Linked DNA regions of Homo sapiens: region 1 is linked to region 2. The links come from fine-mapping of genetic effects on gene expression. A gene starts in region 2. The other region holds a variant in brackets. All regions are shown on one strand. Distances are from middle to middle. Region 1 holds the start of LOC105375072 (a long non-coding RNA gene). Region 2 holds the start of CAPN11 (calpain 11).

Region 1 (8,328 bases), 27 kb after region 2:
ACACTCACATACAGACACAACCACACCACACTCACACACACATACACACTCACATACAGACACAACCACACCACACTCACACACACACATACACACTCACATACAGACACAACCACACCACACACACACACACATACAGACACAACCACACCACACACACACACACACACACACACACTCACATACAGACACAACCACACCACACACACACATGAAAAGGGTCTGTTGGAGTGTGGCATATTACCCAGTCAAAATATTTTATAACAAGTATAGCTCAGGTATCATCTAGTCATGAAGGATGCACACAAAGAGCGCTGGGCAGGGCACCAGTGCCCCCGACAACCCATGCTTGGAATTAACCCTTAGGTCACCAGATGATAGGAATATCAGGAGTGGGCCAGGGTTGGAGGGGGGCATGGGGTCTTAGGCCACTGCTGTGAGCCAACTGTCCTAAAGTATTTCTTTTTCTTTTTTTTGAGACGGAATCTCACTCTGTTGCCCAGGCTGGAGTGCAGTGGTGCGATCTCTGCTTACTGTAACCTCCGCCTCCTGCCTCAGCCTCCTGACTAGCTGGGATTACAGGCATGCACCACCACACCCAGCTAATTTTTGTAGTTTTATTAGAGACGGGGTTTCGTCATGTTGGCCAGGCTGGTCTCAAACTCCTGACCTCAGATGATCCGCCTGCCTCGGCCTTTCAAAGTGCTGGGATTACAGGCATGAGCCACCGCGCCCGGCCTCAGTATTTCATTATTTCAACCACCATGCCATGCATGTGGCCCTACCATATCTGTCTGTCTCTTCAGGACATCTTCAGAGAGTGTGACCAGGACCATTCAGGCACCTTGAACTCCTATGAGATGCGCCTGGTTATTGAGAAAGCAGGTGGCCAAGGGTCAGGAGTGGGCCTTGGGGCAGGGAAGAGGATGGCAGTGTCCAGAGGCCCAGACTTTTCCCCTCCCCACTTCTCTCTCCCTCTCTCAGGCATCAAGCTGAACAACAAGGTAATGCAGGTCCTGGTGGCCAGGTATGCAGATGATGACCTGATCATAGACTTTGACAGCTTCATCAGCTGTTTCCTGAGGCTAAAGACCATGTTCAGTGAGTTAGGCATCTACCCACTCCCCAGCCTAGGCCAGGGGCCGCGGGCCCTTTCCCAAACACCCACCCTGATGGGTGCTGCTCCAGATCCCCTCCCCCTTACAAGGCACACATGAAATGGATTCAAAGCCCAGCTCCGCCACTTGCTGGCAGAGGTGACTTGAGCAAGTCACTTAATCTTTCTGTGCCTCCATTCCCTCCTCTTTAGAATGTGGATAATAATAGTACTGCCCTCAAAGGACTGAGGTGCAGGTTAAACCAGTTAGTCTATGGAAGGCAATCAGAACTGGGCCTGGCTCCTGGTGAGGCTATGTGAGTTGCTATCATTAATTCCCCACTTGGCTAGGGGATTTATGTGGGGAACAGCCAGGAACACCTGGTGTCGCCCCTTCCTACCTAGTTGGGAGTGGTTCTTTCGGAACACTGACTTAGCATTCAGCCCCTCTCCCCCGCTTCCTCTGTAACGCAGCATTCTTTCTAACCATGGACCCCAAGAATACTGGCCATATTTGCTTGAGCCTGGAACAGGTACTTGGAGAAGGGTGGGAAGGAATCTGCAGGATTGCACCTGCCTGCCCCTCAACCCCACCCCCACCCAGCTCTGATGTCCCCGGGCCAGCATCCTGCCCCCGTCTCTTCCCACCCTGGGATCTGCTTCCTGTCTCCACAGTGGCTGCAGATGACCATGTGGGGATAGAGGCGCTGTAGGAGCCTGGTCATCTCTACCAGCAGCAGCAGCAGCGAGGTTCTAGCCCAGGAGGGTGGGGTGCTTCTTGTAGCCCTCAGCTCTCCGGTCTCTGCTGATGAAATGGGCTCCAGGTGGCAGTGCCCGGGTCCCAGGTGCCGTGTTTACTGCAGCAGTGGGACCTCCGTGCCCACTCCCCCAGCTCAGAGGCTTTCTCTTTTTTCCCCAACCCGGCTTCTGATGGCTGGCTTTCCCCCACCATCGCTCTCTCAGAGTATATTTTACTAAAGAGTAGTTGATGCTTCCCCAGGGTCCCCCTGGCTGGGGAGGCCAAGAATAGGGAAGGGACTTGTAGCCCGTTTCTTACCCTCCATGCTTGCTGTCCTGCTCACACCTACCTGCTGACCACCCATCCTGGCACAGCCTCTGTTTTCCTCCCCATCTGTGGATACTATTCTAATAAATAGCACATGCCATTGGCTTCCATGTCTCTGTGTTTTTATGCCAAGAAAAGACTGGCAAGGGTGGAAGTCACTTACCCAGGACCAAAGGATTGGGTAGCTCTCAGCCAAGGGTGATAGGGAGCATATAGAAATGTGCAGTTGTCACAATAACTAGAGGCCATAGTTGGCGTTTATGGGCAGTGCCAGATGCTAAGCACACAAGTCCCTCCCTGTGAAGAACTGTGTGGTGTGCCCTATGGTGGAGCGCTTCTACGGGGGCTGAGCCAGGGCTCCAGGACTCTCATCTGCTGCTTCAAACTGGGGTCCCCAAAGGTGGCACTGCAGGAGCCTCGAAGGTTAAAAATCTGACACCTGCAGCCAGCAGGTCACATAAATGAACGAACTGCCGGGCGCGGTGGCTCACGCCTGTAATCCCAGCACTCTGGGAGGCCAACGCAGGTGGATCACCTGAGGTCAGGAGTTTGAGACCACCCTGGCCAACATGGCAAAACTCCGTCTCTGCTAAAAATACAAAACTTAGCTGGCCGTAGTGGCACGCGCCTATAATCCCAGCTACTTGGGAGGCTGAGGCAGGAGAACTGCTTGAACCTGGGGGGTGGAGGTTGCAGTGAGACAAGATCATACCACTTCACTCCAGCCTGGGTGACAGAGCAAGACTCTGTCTCAAAAACAATTTAAATAAATAAATGAACAAATCCTCCTCGTGTGGGACTGGGAAGGCTGAGGACTGTGGCAATAGGTGAACTCGTTCCTGCCTTAAAGGTGTTCAGATTCAAATCATTATTATTATTGTTAGAAATTTGTTGCCTGTCCACTTACTAAAACCTCCCTTAACTATCCTCCACCTTATCCAGAGAAGCTTCTTCTTTTAGAAAATCAAGCAAAGCAACTAAGTCAAGACATGTTAAAAAAAAAAAAAGTATGAAAAGAAAGCTGTAAGGAAATACAAGGGGAGGGATTGTTAGATATGAGTTCTAAATTTCTTTTCAAAGAATTAATATGTCAGTATGTTCAATTCTTTGCCTTCTATTTTTAAACTTCACTTCCTCGTAAAGCAACCTTTTCAATTACCTATTCCACCCTGACTCATTCCGATCACCTGCTCCACCCTAATTTATTCCAATCACCTGCTACCTGCTCTGCCCTGACTCCCACCAAAGCACTCACCCTGTCAGTCTCTTTAAATTAGTCAATCAGAATTAGTTTAGCCTGTGCGGTCTAACCCTAGCCAATAGGGGAACGACACAGCAGCAGGGGCCACGTGCATCAGGGATAAGAACCCCTTCCCCTCCCTTGTCCAAATGTGTGCTCACCATTGTTCCATCTATAAGGGCGCACGCTTCTATATAGAAGTAACTTGCCTTGCTGAGAATTAAAAAGAAAATTAAAAAAAAAAAAGAAATTTGTTGCTTGTCAAGCTACTGTCCTTGCAGGAGGCATGGAAGAAACACTTATTTCTGGGTCCACCTGTTTTTGACCTCGGGGTCTCTGTCCCAGGTGCCCACACCCCAACTCCAGCCCCAGCCCCCTGCAGTAGTGAGAACACCCAGGCCACTCACAGCAGCCCCTAAACTGTACTTCTCCTCCTGTCCTTCCAGAGCCCTCCACAGCCTCCCCTTCTGGTTTCTGGCAGGGACACTGGAGCCCAAGCACATGCGCTTCTCAGCCTCTCAGGTAGAGACAGCACCCCCAACTTCCCCTAGATTAGAGATCTGTCATCCCCAATGAAGCTAAACCCTTCCTGTCTCTGTGTACCTGTGCAGCTTCCTGGGGTCGCTAGCTTCCTTCCACGTGCACTAAACCCAGCCCTTGTGTGCTTAGTGAGGCAGGTGGGATTCTGATCTTCCTTAATCTGGTGACTGATTGTCTGCACCAGCCCTGGCCCCTGCCTTCTTTGTGACTTCAAAGACTAAAGCTAGTCTGCCTGGATATAAAGCCGCCTTCCCTCCATTATCACCACCCCACGCCGCCTTCAGAGGAATCGTTTCCTGTCCTGTCAGCCCTCCCTGCTTCCTCTCCGTCTCCAGTCCTGCCTGAAAGAATAGGTCACACTCTCTTTGGAGCCTCTTTGAAAGACTGTTCTCCCACTTGTCGTCCTCCCTCTCTCTCTAAGAGATGGCAGCCACCACCTGCTCTCCACAGAGCTTCTCTGAGTGATGAGCAAAAGTCCCCAGAGAGAGCAGGGAGAGGTCAGTGAGAGCCTCAAGCTAACAGGTCCATGCTGGGCATGGTGGCACATGCCTGTAATCCCAGCTACTCGGGAGGCTGAGGAGTTTGAGACCAGCCTGGGCAACACGGGGACTCCATCTTTTAAAAACAAAAACCTAGCAGGTCCTTTGAGACTCTGAGAGGTCCCGGGCAGTCCGGATTGGTTCTGGGAACCCTAGGAAGATGCTGACCCCACCTCTT[G/C]TTCCATGGCCTAGGGTGAAATGCTGCCAACTTCAAGCCAGGATGGAAAGGAAGCAGAAAACTCTCAAATCAGGACTATCCCTTCCGGTTTGTAACAAAGCTGGTTACTCACGAACACTCTGTAAACATAAAATGAAGCAAACTTCACATAAGTAGAGAGTTTATTTGGGCTAAACTTAAGGATTGTAACCCTGGAGAATAGATTCAAATTATTCTGAATATACATCCCGATTAGCAGCAGTTACAAGTGGATTTTTAGGCTGGGTACAGTGGCTCACACCTATAACCCCAGCACTTTGTGAGGCTGAGGTGGGCAGATCACTTGAGGCCAGAAATTCAAGACCAGCCTGGCCAACATGGTGAAACCCCATCTCTACTAAAAATACAAAAAATAGCCAGGCGTGGTGGCACACGGCTGTAGTCACAGCTACTCGGGAGGCTGAGGCATAAGAATCGCTTGAACCCGGGAGGCGGAGGTTGCAGTGAGCTGAGATTGTGCCACTGCACTCCAGCCTGGGTGACAGAGTGAGACTATCTCAAAAAAAGAAAAGAAAAAGTTAGCCAGGACTGGTGGCGCACACATGTGGTCCCAGCTGTGTGGGGAGCTGAAGTGGGAGGATCACTTGAGTCCAGGAGGTCGAGGCTGCAGTGAAATGTGATCATGCCAATGCACTCCTGCCTGGGTGACGGAGCGAGGCCTTGTCTCAAAAAACAAAAAGGTTTTTGTTTTGTTTTGTTTTGGGGTGTGTGTGTGTGTGTGTGTGTGTGTGTGTCAGGGCCTCTCTTTGTCACCCGGCTGGAGTGCAGTGGCACAGTTTTGGCTTACTATAACCTCTGCCTCCCGGGCTCAGGTGATCCTCCTGCCTCAGCCTCCTGAGTAGCTGGGACTACAGGTGCACATCACCATGCATGGCTAATTTTTGTATTTTTAGTAGACACAGGGTTTCACCATGTTGGCCAGGTTAGCCTCAAACTACTGACCTCAAGTAATCTGCCCCACCGCCCACCCCCCCGAGCCTCCCAAAGTGCTGAGATTAAAGTCATGAGCCACTGTGCCCGGCCCAAAATGCATTTTTAAAGGTAAAAAAGGGCTGGGCATAGTGGCTCACGCCTGTAATCCCAGCACCTTGGGAGGCCGAGGCAGGCCGATCACGAGGTCAGGAGTTCTAACCTGCCCAACATGGCGAAACCCCGTCTCTACTAAAAATACAAAAAATTAGCCAGGTGTGGTGGTGGGCACCTGTAATCCCAGCTACTTGGGAGGCTGAGGCAGGAGAATTGCTTGAACCCGGGAGATGGAGGTTGCAGTGAGCCAAGATTGCGCCATTGTACTCCAGCCAGGGTGAGAGCGTGAGACTCCGTCTCAAAAAACAAAAAAGAAAAGAAAAGAAAGGTAAAAAAGGAGGACAGTGAGTGGAATGATACAAAGTTATTTGTTAGGAATTCTCACCGGTTTTCAGAAATAACATTGATTAGTTATTGGCTATAGTGTCTGGTGTCCCATTATTAGGATAATTTATAGCTACCTGTAGAAGTAGCAAGCAGTTTCAAGAGATGAATACATAACTTAAAGGGGAGTGCAGGGTATAGGGTGCAATTGTGTGTCATGTTACTGTCTCTCTGGGTCTGATAATTAAAAGGATTTGCATTCCTCAGATAAAAGTTATTTTTATTTTATTTATTTTTATTTTTTTGAGACAGAGTCTCTCTCTGTCGCCCAGGCTGGAGTTCAGTGGCGCGATCTCAGCTCACTGCAACCTCCGCCTCCCAGGTTCAAGCGATTCCCAGGCCTCAGTCTCCCAAGAAGCTGGATTACAGGCACCTGCCACCTCACCAAATAAAAGTTATTTTCTTTTCCCAACAATTTGCATAGTGGCTTAAGGTGAAGATTCACGAGCTATGTGTCTTTGGGCAAATTATTTTACCTTTCTAACAGAGTATCCTTTTGAATCTGTCAATTAGAGGTGACAATTCCTATCTCAGAGGGCTGTTGTATGGACAACTGCGATAATGAAAGTGAAGCACTTAGGCATATCATTCTTTTTTAAAAAAACTTTGATATTATCTATAATAGTAAAAAAATAAAAAAAACAAATTTTCAATTGTGAACATGTTATAGCCAGGAGTGGTGTGGGTCATGCCTATAGTCCTAGTTACTCGGGAGGCTGAGGCAGGAAAATTGCTTGAGCCCAGGAGTTCAAGGCTGCAGAGAACTCTGATCAAACCACTGCATTCCAGCCTGGGCAACAGAGGGAGATTCTGTCTCAAAAATAAATAAATAAATACACATTAGATGTTACACACGATAAAATATCAAGCCATTGAACTAAATAACACAAATGGCATGAGGGTTATGACATACAGTTGAATAAGCAAGATGCATATTAGATTTACAATAGTCCTTGACATTAGTGTTTACCATTTGCTTGCATTAAATATTATTAGCAATGGCTATATACAATGTTATTTAAAATTTGGAAAATGAGGCACACCATTCTTCTAGTCCCTTCAGGCTCCATTTCCATCCAACTTCACTGCAACTCCATCCCAGCTCAGCCTTAGTGCCCTGGGAGGCCATTCCCACTATGTCCTTGCTGTCTCCAAGGGACCTGTAACCACAGGCAGGCAGCCCATACTTTCTAGTCCCTTTTAGTCCTCTGCTCATAAAACCAGGTGGCTGAGTTTTGCTGGGAATGGGCACTAAACCATGCTGCCTGCATCCTCCTGATTCATGCTGGTTGACCTCGATGGAGGCCACGTGGCAAGCTAGATTTCTTCTCCTGATGACTGACTGCCATTCTCCACACCCACTGCCCTGATTTCCCCCAGACCTCTCACTACAGCCTTCATTTTTACTGCAAAGAATGAGGCTACATCAGAGAAACAGCCTCAACCCCACTTCTCTTCTCCCTCAGAATATCTTCGCAGCTTCATCCTCTGGTCTCTGAGAAAATTGGGTCCCAAATGTGCTTGAAAACCATGGAATGCCATGCAACAGAAGCAGCAGACTAGATGCCACCCAGCCACAGCTGTAGAGCCTGAGAAGATGCTGAGTGAAGAAAAAGTAAAGCAGGATGAGCTCATTAGCTTCTTTTGTTTTTTTGTGGTTGCTTTTTGTTTGTTTTGTTTAGGTACAGGGTCTCCCTCTGTCGCCCAGGCTGCAGTGCAGTGGTACAATCATGGCTCACTGCAGCCTTGAACTCCTGGGCTCAGGTGATCTTTCTGCCTCACTCTGCCATGTAGCTGGGACTATGGGTGCACGCCAACATGGCCAGCTTTTTTTTTTTTTTAATTTTTTGTAAAGACAGTCTCACTGTGTTGCCCAGGCTGGTCTCGAACTCCTGGGCTCAAATGATCTTCTTGCCTTGACCTCCCGAAGTATTGAGATTACAGGCATGAGCAACTGTGCCTAGCCCAATAGCTAGCTTATTTTTAAAAGCAATTTTAAAATATATATCTTGGAGATATTTTTCTATTAGTATATAGAGAGCTTCCTTTTTTTTTTTTTTTTTTGAGTTGGAGTTTTGCTCTTGTTGCCCAGGCTGGAGTGCAATGGCGCCATCTCGGTTCACTGCAACCTCCACCTCCCGGGTTCAAGCGATTATCCTGCCTCAGCCTCCCGAGTAGCTGGGATTACAGGCACCCGCCACCATGCCCGGCTAATTTTTT
Region 2 (8,328 bases):
CCTGGTGCACCTGGTGCCGGTGGCTGGAGACCTGGGGGGCAGGTGGATCTGGGGCTGTTCCCCCCCCTCCGTTTTTTCCACCCCACAGTTCCTCCTGGGATCTGGCCCTCCAGGGAAGTGGAGCCTCCAGCCCCTAGGGGATGCATGAGGGGGGAGGGGGTGCTGAGTGGGAGGAAGAGTCAGGCTCACAGCTGGGGTGGCCTGGGGGTGGGGGTGGGCAAGGCTGACACTGGAAAATGGGTTTTTGCACTGTTTTTTTTTTGGTTTTTTTGTTCTTTTTTGTTTTTTTCCTTTAAAATAAAAACAAAGAAAAGCTCTGAGGCAGGTGTCTGACTTGTGCTGCCCTGGGCACCTGGGCCGGGTCCCCACCCTCCTATCTGGAGGGCCTCTTTGAGGTCCCTGCATGACGCTGGGCAAGGGACTTGTTCAGAGTCTCATTTCTGTGTCACTGAGAGGAGAGAGTGGGGCTGGGGAGAGACTTAAGGGATATCTCAGAGGCAGGAAGGGCCCCTGTGCCCAGGTGGCCACCATACCAGCCTCGCCCACTCTGATCATTCCCCTGAGTCCCTGAGCAACACACATGGGACAGAGATTCAGGGAGAAAAGGTCGTGCAAAGCCACAGGGTCCATGCTGGGCCAGGACGAAGGCCCTTCTGAGCACCTCAAAGTAAGCCTGGCGCCAGCCCATCTGTCCCTTCCCCAGGAGGGCCTGATCTCCTCAATGAGAAGCCCCCTCCCACCCTCCAGTCAAATCTTACCCATTCTCCAAGACCCAGCTCAAATTCACCTTCTCGCCAGGCGCGGTGGCTCACGCCTGTAATCCCAGTACTTTGGGAGGCCAAGGTGGGTGGATCACTTGAGTTCAGGAGTTCGAGACCAGCCTGGCCAACATGATGAAACCCCATCTCTACAAAAAATACAGAAATTAGCTGGGCATGGTGGTGCACCCCTGTAATCCCAGCTACTTGGGAGGCTGAGGCATGAGAATCACTTGAACCTGGGAGGTGGAGGCTGCAGTGAGCTGAGATCATGCCACTGCACTCCAGCCTGGGCGACAGGGCAAGACCCTGTCTCAAAAAAAAACAAAAAAAAATCACCTCGAAAAAAGGTCCTGTGACTGCTGTAGCCCACCCTGCAAAGGCCCACAGAGCCATGTGGTGCACACCCACACACATGCACACACAGCATGTACTGCATGTACTGTAGGAGGCCTGCATTCCAGTCCTTATTCTGTCACTAAATCACTTTGCAACCCTGAAGAAAAGGAAGAAAAAGGAACTCTTAGAGGGAAGAAAAGAGACCTCAGAGGAGGAGGAGAACCAGGTTCCACAAAAGTCAACAGGAACCACCAACAGCAGGAACAGCAAACACAGCAAGCCTGATAAAGATTGCCCAGGCGCCAGCAAGGAGCAGGAGCAAAGAGCGCCCAAGGTCCAGCCCCAGGCTGCAGGGAGCTGCGGCAAACACAGCTTGGAGGGTCAGTGTTTATGGGCGGGCTGTGGGTGGAGGATGGGCCAGTGACAGTGGAGGTGAAAGTTGAGGCCTTGGTCCTGGCCTCAGCCTGCATATGTATGTCAGATCTGCAGTTGTGAAACATGAGCTCCCAGGTAGAGTCCCCAAAGTCTTGGGGCCAAGGGAGTGCCTGCTGGTGGTTGGACAAATATTGGCATGGCTTTGAAAGGAGCACCTTGGTTGTGTGAAGGCTTCTCGGTGCTCCCGAAGCCTGTTTTCCGTATGGATGGGCAGGCACACCACCGCCATTTGCCTGGCAAGCCCCCTTGTCTGCAAAGCATGGCCTGGACAGACCTCAGCCCCCACCTCTGGTTAGCCGAGACCCTCTCATTCCTCATCTGCCCAGCATGCCTTCCCTTTCCTGCAGGGCCTGAAGTTCAAAGCCAGGTTCCAGCATTTCCAAATGTGAAACTCCAGATAATGCCCAAGCAGCACACTGAGCAAGAGTCCTGAGGACAGCCCTCCCCCAGGGTGGGAGGCTGTAATAGAGAGGAACACCCGTGCCTGCCTGCACCCTACCCCTGGCACCTCGTCACAGAGTTCATGTCCAGGCAGATCACATTAGAGGCATCCAAGAGGTGCAATAGTGGAATCAGGAGTGGGCAGGGGAGACCACAGGATCCCCAAAGACCACTTCCTCCTTTCACAGCTGGGGGCAGCAGAAGATACGGATAAGAGCTAAAGTTATGGCCGGGCACGGTGGCTTATGCCTATAATCCTAGCGCTTTGGGAGGCCGAAGCGAGTGATCACCTGAGGTCAGGAGTTCGAGACCAGCCTGCCCAACATGGCGAAACCCCGTCTCTACTAAAAATACAAAAATTAGCTGGGCATGGTGGTGGGCACCTGTAATCCCAGCTACTTGAGAGGCTGAGGCAGGAGAATCGCTTGAACCCGGGGGGCAGAGGTTGCAGTGAGCTGAGATTGCACCACTTCACTCCAGCCTGGGCAAAAGAGCGAGACTCCATCTCAAAAAAAAAAAAAAAAAAAAAAATCTGAAGTTATTAGTTTAAATCCTGGCTCGACCGCTTAACAGCTGTGTGACCCTGGGCAAGTTGCATCATACCTCTAGACCTCACTTTCCTCATCTATAAAATGGGAATAGCAATGTCATGGCCTCTGGCTGTTTTAAGGATTAAATAAGTAGGAAGTTCTTAGCCCAGTGTTTGGCACATAATAACAAACCATAATTAATATTCTCGTAGATGAGGAGATTGAGTCCCAGAAAGGAGAAAGGGGGAGGGCTCGCCCAAGGTCAGCTCCTGTTTCAGAGCTTGGAACAAGGTTCTCTGATCCCATTGGGTGCTCTCACACCTGTTCTGTGCCTGATTAGCACCAGGCAGGGCTGAGGGGCACTGGGATGACCTTGACAGTCCCTGTCCTCAGCCATCATACACTCCAGAGAAGACTGCACTCTGGAGCAGAGTTCTTAGCTCAAAGCATTCCCACTTTCCAGTGCAGAGGCAGGACATGTGGTCAGACCAGTGGCCTAACCTTGCCAGACTGGGGCTAGGCAAGGAGAGTGTTGCAGGTGGAATCGTGTCCCCCAAAAAGGCATGTTGAAGTCCTGGCCCCCAGTACTTCAGAATGTGACCTCATTTGGAAACAGGGTGGTTGCAGATGTAATTCGTTCAATTAAGATGAGGTCATACTGAAATGCATGGGACCCTAGCCCCATATGACTGGTGTCCTTATAAGAAGAAGAGACACAGAGGAGGGTGCCATGTGAAGACAGCAACACAGGAAAAATGCCATGTCAGTGAGAAAGGGGCTTTTGGGAATGAGAAGGCTTTCTGGATGTAAAGGTCAGGTTGGTGTGTCAGGGACAACCCCTTCCTGGAAACCTTGGGCTGAAAAAAAGGGACTGGGACCTACCCTGATGGGATGACCGTGATACAGTGAGGACAGCCAGGCTGGTGGAGGCTGTGCAAGGCAGGGGTGCTGGGTCATCTGTCCCTAAAGCGGGTAGCCCTCAGCTGGGTAAGGGGCTGGGTTACTGAGAAGGAGAAAAGGGAAGGCAGCTGTTAAACCGGCTGCTGACCTAGGAATCCCACTGCAATGAGAGAGTTCTGGGGGGAGGGTCTCTTCTCCCCCTCCCACCAGAACCTTCAACTGTCAAGCACCGAGCTAGCCACCAGCATGCTGTACTCCCCAGGTAGGCACTCATGGGGCCTTGCCCCACTCCTGTACCTCCTGCAGGCTAGAGCCTCCCCCCAGGGGAGGAGCTGTGTCCCGCATCAGACTGGGTGCCCCTTGAGGGTACAGAGAGTGACTCTTCCATCAGACTGGATGCCCCTTGAGGGTACAGAGAGTGACTCTTCCATCAGACTGGATGCTCCCTAAGGACAGGACCTGGGCCTCGTTCTCAGACTGTTTGGGGAAGGATAGGCCACTGGTGGTCAGACTGGGTGGTAGGCCGGGCAGGAACTCTTTCTCCTCTCCACTGACAGTTGGAGTTGGGGAGAGGAGAGGGGCCGGCCATCCCACTGTCATGGCTGCTGGGGAAAAGGGTTTGTGTGAAAAAGCCCACGTAGAGAAGAAAACTTTAGGGAACAGAGAGAACCTCTCCTAAGCCTAGAAAAGCAGGTCCCTCAGCCCAGGAAGATGAGATCCTCAGGGTGGCAGGGGCAGGACTACCTGAGGCAAGCCTGGGACCAGACTCCAGGAGATGGGGGAGAGTGGGCTGGGGGGAAGGGGAGGGCTGGGCAGAACTGAGTTGTTCCTGTGGGGCTAGGGTGCACAGAGGGCAGCCAGCCTTGGCCAGCAGAAGGTCAGCCCTGTACCTCACCCTCAGCCTGGGGCACCGTGAGACCATGGGCCCCTAGACCCAGCCTCCCAGCTTCTCAGGCCCTCCCTGTTTACCTGACCCTAGGAAGTTTAGGCCTAGCTGGTGACCCCAAACCCAGTCCTTGTTCTTCAGAAGTGCCCTGAGCCCAGGAGTTCAAGACCAGCCTGGTCAGCATAGCAAGACCTCATCTCAAAATATAATTTATTTATTTATTATTATTACTTATTAGTATTTATTTTTTTTTAAAGTTCCCTGACACAACATCTTAGTTTTTTCCCAGTGCCGGAAATCAAACTGTCCTTAAATCTATAGTCCCCTAATAACAATGTATTGCATTTAGAAAATCACTGAGAGAGGCCAGGCACAGTGGTTCACGCCTGTAATCCTAGCACTCTGGGAGGCCAAGGCAGGTGGATCATCTGAGGTCAGGAGTTCGAGACCAGCCTGGCCAACATAGTGAAACCGTGTCTCTACTAAAATACAAAAATTAGCCATGCGTGGTGGCGGGCGCCTGTAATCCCAGCTACTCGGGAGGCTGAGGCAGGAGAATCTCTTGAACCCAGCAAGTGGAGGTTGCAGTGAGCCGAGATCGTGCCACCGCACCCCAAGCCTGGGCGACACAGCGAGACTCCATCTCAAAAAAAAAAGAAAATCACTGACAGTAGATTTTAAGTGTTCTCACCACAAACAAATAACAAGTATGTGCAGTAATGCAGATATTAATTAGCTCAACTGAGCCATTCCACAGTGAATACATATTTCAAAACACCATGTCGTATACAACAGATATATACTTTTTTTGTCAATAAAATAAAACTGATTTAGTTAAAAACGATCTGGCCGGGCGCAGTGGCTCACGCCTGTAATCCCAGCACTTTGGGAGGCCGTGGCGGGCAGATCACGAAGTCAGGAGATCGGGACCATCTTGGCTAACGCGGTGAAACCCTGTCTCTACTAAAAATACAAAAAATAAGCCAGGCGTGGTGGCGGGCGCCTGTAGTCCCAGCTACTCGGGAGGCTGAGGCAGGAGAATAGCGTGAACCCAGAAGGTGGAGCTTGCAGTGAGCCAAGATCGCTCCACTGCACTCCAGCCTGGGCGACAGAGTGAGACTCCGCCTCAAAAAAAACCTCAAAAAACAACAACAACAACAACAACAAAATGATCTGTAGGTTCTCAGTCTGATGGAGGAGACAGGATGTGCAGCTGCAGCAGAAAGCTTCCTGTCCATTCATGCCTTTTAACATGCAGCAGCCCCTGCTTTCCACGCAGTTTCAGTTACCCGCTGTCAACTGCAGTCTGAAAACATCAGGATATTTTGAGACAGAGAGACCACATTCACATTACTGTTATTGTATTGTTGTATTTGTTATATTTTATTACTTATTATGGTTAACTGCTTACTGTGCCTAATTTATAAACTAAACTTTATCATAGGTATGTACATAAAGGAAAGACATAGTATTGATATATACAGGGTTTGGTACCACCCGCAGTTTCAGGTGTCCACTGGGGGTGTTGGAACGTACCCCTAGGGTTAAGGGGAGCTACTGTGTTGCTCTGGCCATCTGTCTGTGCTTCCCACAGGCAGCCTTGGTCTGTCTGTCTCAGCCTTCTCACGCTCCTAGCCCATGTGACAGCTTGGATCTTTTGCCCTCTCTAAGGGGATATTTTCTTTTGGGTTTTTTTTTTTTTTGGTGTTTTTGTTTGTTTGTTTGTTTTGAGGTGGAGTCTCACTCTATTGCCCAGGCTGGAGTGCAGTGGCCCAACCTTGGCTCACTGCAACCTCCACCTCCCGGGTTCAAGCGATTCTCCTGCCTCAGCCTCCTGAATAGCTGGGACTACAGGCATGTGCTACCACACCCAACTCATTTTTGTGTTCTTAGTAGAGACGGGGTTTCACCATGTTGGCCAGGCGGGTCTTGAACTCCTGACTTCAGGTGATCCGCCCACCTCAGCCTCTCAAAGTGCTGGGATTACAGGCGTGAGCCACAGTGCCCAACTTAAAGACATTTTCCATGACAACTGTGGTGGTGTGGATAGGTGTGTCAGTCCTTCCTGCAAGTCAGAGCTGAGTAATGACCTCACACCCTGGGGACTGGGTATGCAGCTTCGAAGCAGGGTTTGGGGGCCAGACAGTGAGAAATGACTTGTTGGGCTGGATGGTGACTAGGGGACAGAGGGCTCTGGGGAAATGAGACAAGGGAGTTAAGATGGAACCTGAATTGCCTTGGCCTGCCCTCTGATGTTCTTTCAGTCTTCTCAAACAACAGCATCTTCCCTGGTCCTTCCAGGCCCCCAGGAGAGCTCAACACCCTCAGTCCTCGGAGCAGCCAGGGTAGAGGCTGCCTGGAGTGACTGCACGGTGCAAGGGCATGGAGTGGTTTGCCTTATCGTGTGAATGACCTTAGATGATTCGCTCAACCCAGGTTTGTCAACCCCAGCTCTCTTGACATTTTGAACTGGAAAATTCTTTATTGTGGAGACTTTCCTCTACACTGAGGGGCGCCCAGCAGCATCCCTGGCCTCTACTTACTAGATGCCAGTAGCTCCCCTGAGACCTGCCCCAGTTATGACAACCAACACTGCCTCTAGACGTTGCCACCTGTTCCCTGGGGGCCGTAATCACCCCGGGTTGAGAACTTCTGACTCAATCTCTCTGTGGAGGCCCTGGCTTCCACCCAGCTCAGATGGGAATAGTCATCCTGATCCGCCAGCTTCACAGATAGGGATCAGGGGCTGAAACAGAAGGTGTTCAGCTCTCCCCTCTCAGGACTGCTTTCCACCCTTCCCTCGGAACCCTCTTCATCTGAAAGGGGCTCCACTGTTTAACCCCGCCCCCGCAGCCCCCCTCACAGTCTCTTTGAATAAAGACACACACACACACACACACACACACACACACACACACACACCTGTAATCATAGCCCGAGGGGGTGAGGGAGCTTCCATTACCATTTCTAAGATAATCCCAGAGGGCTTGGGTTAGAAGAGACAGGGTTTGAGGAAAATGGAGGGAGAAAAGAGCGAGGAGAACTCCCAGACTCTGGCTCTACCCACCCTCTTCCCTGCTTCCCAGCCCTGATGCTTCCAGAACCAGGACGTCAAAGTGCACCCCACCCTCAGGGGAATGGGATGTGCTTAGAATAGGGAAAGGGGGATAGTCATTCCCCCACAGAACCTCCCTGATGATCCCATCAACCTGGTGGCCCCTTTTCATGGCACTTTCTCCTGTCTTTGCGGCCCATGGAGCTGAACCTGGGGGAGGAATCGCATGGGAGGGTCTTCTCCACGCTCCATGTTGGGGGTGCATTCACTTTGACCCCTCAGTACCAGCCCAGAATAAATTCTCCATAAAACATGCCTAACACGAGTTAGGGTTTGCTCTCAGGAGCTCAAACCAGTGGCAAAGACAGACAAGCACACACATGACTCCAATATTGGAGTAATATCACTAGTATCATTAAATCCTATGATGGAGGGACACATATGTGACACAGAGCATGGGCCATGTGATCCTAGAAGGAGCTCAACAAATACCAGTTGACCAACTAGGTCAGTGGGGAGAAGGTGAGTAACGTTTTCTGAGCACCTGCTAAACTCCAGTCTTTTTCACACGTTGCATTCTTCAATCCTGAAACACCCTCGCAGGTAGAATGCAGCAGCCTCTATACACAGGTGAGGAAACCAAGGCTCAGGGAGGTCAAACAACTTGCCCAAGGTCACACAGCTAATTCTCTGGCTCCAGTGCAGCCCAGGGCATTAGCTCTGCTAAAAAGGGACAAGCCACCCCTTTTCCAACACCTTTATCCATCCTCAACACCCCCTGTCAGCTGCTCCACACAGGGGAAGTGACTTCACAAAGACCACACACAAGTTGCAGTACAATGGACGAAGGGGCCGCACCAAGGCCAGTTGACTCACTCATCCCTCTCCAGCACAGCCATGGCTCCTCACCATGGCGACCTCCCAGCAAGGCAGCGAGCCTGATGGCTGAGAGCATAGAGCAGCCTGCCCTGACTCTAATGCCCA

Evidence for each region. PIP is the estimated chance that this variant, and not a neighbour inherited with it, causes the effect.
Region 1: its variant is fine-mapped to the expression of CAPN11 in esophagus muscle (GTEx, PIP 0.96).

What each region holds. Positions count from the first base shown.
Region 1 is chr6:44,182,135-44,190,462 of GRCh38, forward strand. CAPN11 (calpain 11) reads left to right here. Exons shown (of 23, transcript NM_007058.4): 20 at 807-885; 21 at 985-1,101; 22 at 1,571-1,629; 23 at 1,772-2,267. The coding sequence ends at 1,798. It overlaps LOC105375072 (a long non-coding RNA gene), which reads left to right and starts at 3,849. Exons shown (of 3, transcript XR_926835.2): 1 at 3,849-3,924; 2 at 4,674-4,746; 3 at 7,575-7,807. The variant G/C (reference allele first, on the strand shown) is at 4,660.
Region 2 is chr6:44,155,200-44,163,527 of GRCh38, forward strand. It overlaps CAPN11 (calpain 11), which reads left to right and starts at 3,621. Exons shown (of 23, transcript NM_007058.4): 1 at 3,621-3,665. The coding sequence starts at 3,650. It overlaps TMEM63B (transmembrane protein 63B), which reads left to right. Exons shown (of 24, transcript NM_018426.3): 24 at 1-320. LOC107986599 (a long non-coding RNA gene) reads right to left here and starts at 3,404. Exons shown (of 3, transcript XR_002956350.2): 1 at 3,386-3,404; 2 at 2-133. RefSeq lists an enhancer at 4,798-4,967 and a silencer at 6,351-6,440.